2 linked regions of the Homo sapiens genome follow. The protein of the gene in region 2 purifies or fractionates together with the protein of the main gene of each other region. This does not show direct contact. Each region holds a gene or a part of one and is shown on either strand. Other genes may lie near its edges.

Region 1 (3,661 bases), on a different chromosome or scaffold from region 2:
CATCCCCTGGTGTTACTCTCATGACTATGCTACATTATATGGCAAAAGGGAGGTGACCTTGGCGGGCCTAATCTAATCAAACAAACCTTCAAAAGCAGAGAGGTTTCTCCAGCTGATTGTCAGAAATTCAAAAAACCAAGTGAATGCAGTGTGCCATTGCTTGTTTGAAGGTGGGGGGGAACATGTGGGAAGGATCTGGCAGTGACTTGTAGCCAACAGCCAATAAAAATGAGAAACAGTCCTATAGCCACAAGGAACTGAATTCTATCAATAACCTAAATGGCCCTGGAAGTGGCTTCTTCCCCAGTGCCTCCAGACAAAAGCCTAGCCCAATCTCTTGATTCTGGCCTTGTGGGACCCTAAGTAGAAAGCCTAGCAAAACCTGCATGACTTTTGAACTGTGAGCTAATAAATGGGTGCTATTTTAAGCTGCTAAATTGGGGGCAATTTGTTACATGGACATAGAAAATTAATACAACCCCATCACAAAACAAACAAAAATTTTATCCCATTCACCATGTTGTTTTCCTAATTCAGAAATCATACCATTATCCATCCAGTTGCTTAAGGCAGAAACCGAAGAATCATCTTTGCCTCTACCTAACTGTTCTTTCTAATTATCATAAAGTGTTTTTGACCATACACCTCTGAACTATCTTTCAAATATGTCCTCTTTTCTCTATCTCAATTTCTATCAGTATAGTCTAAGCCACCATTATTTCTTTACATCAAGGGATGAAGAATTACAATAACCCTTTTTGGTCTGTCAGACTGTTTTCACTCTGGTCATCCTCAAATCCCTTCTCCATTTTGAATGCAGAAGTTCTCTGAAAAGAGAAATCTGATCCTACAATTCCCCTATTATTTAAATAAAAATATAAAATGTATATTTACTATACATGCATATTAAATATATATGTTTAATTCAAAGCCCATCAGATAAAATATCCTTGGCAAACTTGAAAGGCCTTCAACCTTTACTTACTCTTTCTGCCTCATTTCTAGACACTCTTCCCCTTAATCTTCCAACTACATTGGACCACTTTCATGCTCTTTGCTCTCTTTCATCGCCTGGTTTTTGAAGGCTCTTCATCTCCCTCCACTTACCACTCTTACCCCACCTATAATAACTTAATCAGGCTAAATTCTGCAGTTCCTTCAGATCATAATAAATGGGACTTCATTAAGATGTTCTCCACTCCTCAAGCACCCTTTACTCACCCCATGCTAATATTATTGCCCTTATGTCATTATTTGTTATCTTCTCTTCTACAATGTAAGCTATACAGAGGCAGAGACACTGGCTATGTTTTCTACTGCTGGTAGCAAAAAACAAAGTTGTATCTTTACCACTTGGTGTGTCTTGTGGTGGGCATTTAAAACTTTTTTTTGAATAAATAAGTGAACCTTTAGACATGCTGTCAGGATGATGGGTTTCAACAGACTCATAGCTTAAACAAACATCGGTGTCCATTTCAGTGGAAAGATGAAATAAAAAAATAAAGATAACCAGATATTTCACATGTGAAAATGTATTGAAATGCCAAAAAGATGATTTGGGGCTATATAAGTTATAAACAAATAATATGACAAAATAATTGTAGCTCTATTATTTTTCACACAGATTGTAAATGCTCGGGGCATATTTTAAAAGATTAAAGAAATTCAATTGCTATTTTGCTAGAGAAGTTTCATTCAATCTTTGGCTAAAAACCAACATAGTAACAGGGATATAAAGATTAAAAAAGTACTTTGGGATTTTATCTCCCATTTTAATCCATGCAGTTATCACATAGTGTAAATCACTCCCTATTAAAGTATTAAAATGTCATTTGTAGACAGTGGGAGATAACAGTTTAAGACTAGCTTTTTTTTTTTCTAGGATTCTTTTTCATGAGGGGAAAAAAAGCTTAAAATGTCTTCACATTTTTTTTTAATCTTTCATATTTTAACACAAGAAGCAAAAACCAGTTGAAAATATTATTAATCAAAAATAGAAAATTAGAGGCAACATATCCCCATGTGTGGTTTAGTTTTTAATTGCTCATTTTGATAACAAGTCATTTTTGCAGAATGGTGCTAATTTGCCAACCATATAAGCCACAATGTCTCAGGTATGGTTTTACTAGTTCAGGTTTGTTTCTTTTAATTAAACTGTGGGTGATACATTTATATATATTAAGGTCAGTATCATTATATATCATATATATGTGTGTATGTGTGTGTGTATATATATATATCACCTGCAAGTTTTTTTTTTTTGAGACGGAATTTTGCTCTTGTCATCCAGACTGGAGTGCAATGGCGCAATCTCGGCTCACTGCAACCTCCACTTCCTGGGTTCAAGCGATTCTCATGCCTTAGCCTCCGCAGCAGCTGGGATTACAGGCACCCGCCACCACGCCCAGCTAATTTTTGTATTTTTAGTAGAGACGGTGTTTTGCCATGTTGGCCAGGCTGGTCTCAAACTCCTGACCTCAGGTGATCCGCCCATCTTGGCCTCCCAAAGTGCTGGGATTACAGGCATGAGCCACCATGCCCGGCCCACCTGCAGTTTTATTAAAAGAAACTCTTCAGCAATATTTTCAATATTTACTAAGATAGCCCTCTTCTCTCTTCTCGCATTATATTTTCACTCTGACACAGAGACAGAATTATTCTAGTATCTAGTTTTATACAAATTATTAAGCTCAGTCTTTGAAATCCTCACGCTATTAACAGAACAATAAAGTTGAAAAAAAATAGGCAATAAAATTTAATCTCCCATTTGGTGCAAAATATATGTGATCTTTCTGACAATACAATTCCAATCACTAGGAGGAATTACAGTATGCTTCATTGCTACTATACTGAATCATAAACAAATATTTATTCCTTCCTACTAAATCAACATACACTCTTAAAATATCTAGTAACTCCTGTAAGTTTTCTTGTCTCCAGATCACAACGCTTCAACTATTTTTTGTAGATAACATGGTTTTCAGTTGTATTACTAACCTGCTAGTTTTTTCTTACATGCATTCCAGATTATCATTCTCACATTTATTACAATCCATTTTTGTGCATTTTCTATAGATCTTATTTTCAAATTATAAACATGTTACTGTACTAACAAGTTATGTTCATTATAAAACATCCACCCAAAATAAATTTTTAAAAATGTACAGAGAGTCTAATCTTTTATTCCCATACCCCAACTGGTGTTATATACCCTACTTCAACAATACATCTATAGATACGGAGAGATCAGTGTCAAGAACAATACAACTATAACTCCCTTAATCTAAGGCTTCACTTCTTTTAATGTAGGCAACTGTATTATATTCACTTTTTTCCTTTCCTTTTTTTTAAGAGCTGTGTTTCATAATGGTTCAGGTACTTTTCTCCATATGAAACAATCAAAAACCTGATTTCCCACCATGTTATGTTGTACTCGTGGGATTGAGTTTTTAAAATACCTAAGGCAGGTTTTAACCTATAACTCTAATTTTAACATTTTTTAGGTTTTTGTCTAGAGTATATGTGGTCTACTCCGTCTTTGGAATCCTGATTTGGTCACATGCCTTAGTGATCTTTCCACCTTAGGATATCTAAAAAGCTGGTATTCAAGTCATTAATGAAAGTGTCAAACAGGTTAGAGTACTAAGTATGTTACTAAAAA
Region 2 (2,351 bases):
GCAAAAATCTAGAGGGCGCCATTGGTATTGTGACATGGGTAGTACCTATTAGACACCTGCACAACCTGCCAACTGTATACAGATGCCCTGGTCATCTCATGGCCATGGCTACGAAAGTTGCCTTCCCTCCCCACTACCAGCCCTGCCCAACCTAGGCAAAGATTCCTGCCTCTGCTTGAGTGTTCTAATGTGGCCCAGAAGTGACTTACCATTGACCTTAATTGGGAAGTATCTCCCTGATGGGCCATCCCCTAGAGGCCTTTGGAATTCCATTTATAAAAGTGAAATGTGGCTGGGAACTTTTCAGTTACTCATCTTTGCAAAGTGAAAGCCTCTGTAAGGCAAACCAAAGCTGTGAAGACTGGGGTCACTGACTCCCACACTCCTGGCCTGTGGGTGAATATATGCCTTCATGGCCATCTGCCACGGAATTAGGGTAAAGGCCTCAAGGCTAGTCTTGTAGCTAACTGCCACCAAGAAGCCACCAAGAAAATCACTGAGGTCACCCTAGACTGGATGCCTGGGCCAGGGTCACAAACCCCAATGCCTACAGGGGCGAGGCAGGAAACATAAATGAGTGGAGAGGATTAAGCCAGTTCTTCACTGAGAATGGAGAACACTGTGGTCTGCCATGGTTGCTGCCACATGGGAATGTGGCCTGAGGTTGCCGGATAGTCCGCCCCATTTTTGAAGAGAAGCTGGGAATCTGGACTTTTAAATGTTGGCAACTATTTTGAATTTAGAAAACACCATCTGGGCCAAATAAAACATATTCTGTAGGCGAGATCCGGCCCTTGAATCTCCAGTTTGCATCCGCTGGCCCAGGCCCAGAGACTTGGGTTTTTAAGACCCAAGTCACTGAGAGTCTGAGGATATTACACTCAGATTCTCAGTGATGGATATTTAAGAGACCTCAGAGATGACCTAGCTCAGCCTTTGTGTGTTCAAAACTGCGTATGTACAAACTTCTTTTTTTTTTTTTTTTTTTTTTTTTTTTTTTTTTTTTGAGACGGAGTCTTGCTCTGTCACTCAGGCTGGAGTGCAGTGGCACAATCTTGGCTCACTGCAACCTCCGCCTCCTGGGGTCAAGCAATTCTCCTGCCTCAGCTTCCTGAGTAGCTGGGATTACAGGTGCCCGCCACCATGCCCAGCTAATTTTTTGTATTTTTAGTAGAGATGGGGTTTCACCATATTGGCCAGGCTGGTCTCGAACTCCTGACCTCAGGTGATCCACCAGCCTCTGCCTCCCAAAGTGCTGGGATTACAGGCGTGAGCCACCACACTCGGCCTACGAACTTCTTTATTAATGTAATAGCGCACATATACTTAACTTCTGGTTTCTACTTAAGAGCATCTCAATAACCTCCGATATAGAATACGATGAAAAATGAAACCTGTGTGCATAATGTGCTTGTATCTACCTGTCAGAAGCCCTTTGCTTTGATAGCATTTGCTGCCTCAGTCTTCCTCATCACCCAACCTCTCTGGGTTGCTTGTTATGATAAACCTAAGTGCCTCCGTAAATGGTTAGAGCATGTGTTTCTTCGTCTTTGTGACTTCCCTTGTCTGGGAATAAGACTGCTTGTACTTCTCCCAGCTTTGCCCTCTTTGGCCTACTAGTAGCACACCCCATCGATCCAGACCTGTCTGGCTCTTTGTAACATTTACCTGGTCACATGATAAAGGGTGCTGAGTGCTTGCCAGTGTGGGTCCCTGTCACTTCTCATGCATGTCCTATACCTTAATTTTACCACATGTGCTTCTGCTTCTTAAAAGCCATTCAAATAAATGGAGAGGGTTTTAATTAACTTACGTTGTCTTGTTTTTTCCCCACAATTGTATTCACAAACTGGCATATGGCCCCTCATGAAATGCTAATGGTGACGTAGGTAATGAAGAGGCCTGGGACCCGATTCATCCACTAGTGCTGGGATCTTTCTGTAGAATCTGTCCCAGCACATGAAGACCACCCTGAGGGGAGATTCCGCAATGGACAGCAGCCTGAGAGCATCAGAAGGCAAGCTTCCCCCAACAGGGCTCCTCACATGGACTCGGTGTTCCCATCTGGAACTACCAAGGGTGGGGATGGAGAGGGAGGAAGAGAAGATGAGAAAGGATGTGAGATGAAGGAAGAAGGGGATAACTCAGACTCCAGCCCTCACATCATTCTTCTTCCTGCACCCCAGGGTCTTCCTACACCCCAGGGTCTTCCTGCACCTCAAAGTGTCTGCAGAGCAGGAATCCAAGAGTGGCTTTTCTGGGTGGTTCTTACTCAGAGCCTCTCATGAGGTTGTAGTCAAGCTGCCAGGTGGAGCTGCAGTCAATGGAAGGCTTGCCTAGGGCTGGAGGAG

The links. The genes of interacting proteins can lie anywhere in the genome.
Region 1: the proteins of NT5C1A (region 2) and KLHL8 purify together in Homo sapiens (affinity purification with mass spectrometry; one large-scale study listed by BioGRID and IntAct). This does not show direct contact.

What each region holds. Positions count from the first base shown.
Region 1 is NC_000004.12:87,172,034-87,175,694, forward strand, and holds part of KLHL8 (kelch-like protein 8), read right to left. Parts: intron 1-3,661. UniProt on the Homo sapiens protein: Substrate-specific adapter of a BCR (BTB-CUL3-RBX1) E3 ubiquitin ligase complex required for The BCR(KLHL8) ubiquitin ligase complex mediates ubiquitination and degradation of RAPSN.
Region 2 is NC_000001.11:39,650,686-39,653,036, reverse strand, and holds the end of NT5C1A (cytosolic 5'-nucleotidase 1A), read left to right. Parts: 3' UTR 1-1,808; downstream 1,809-2,351.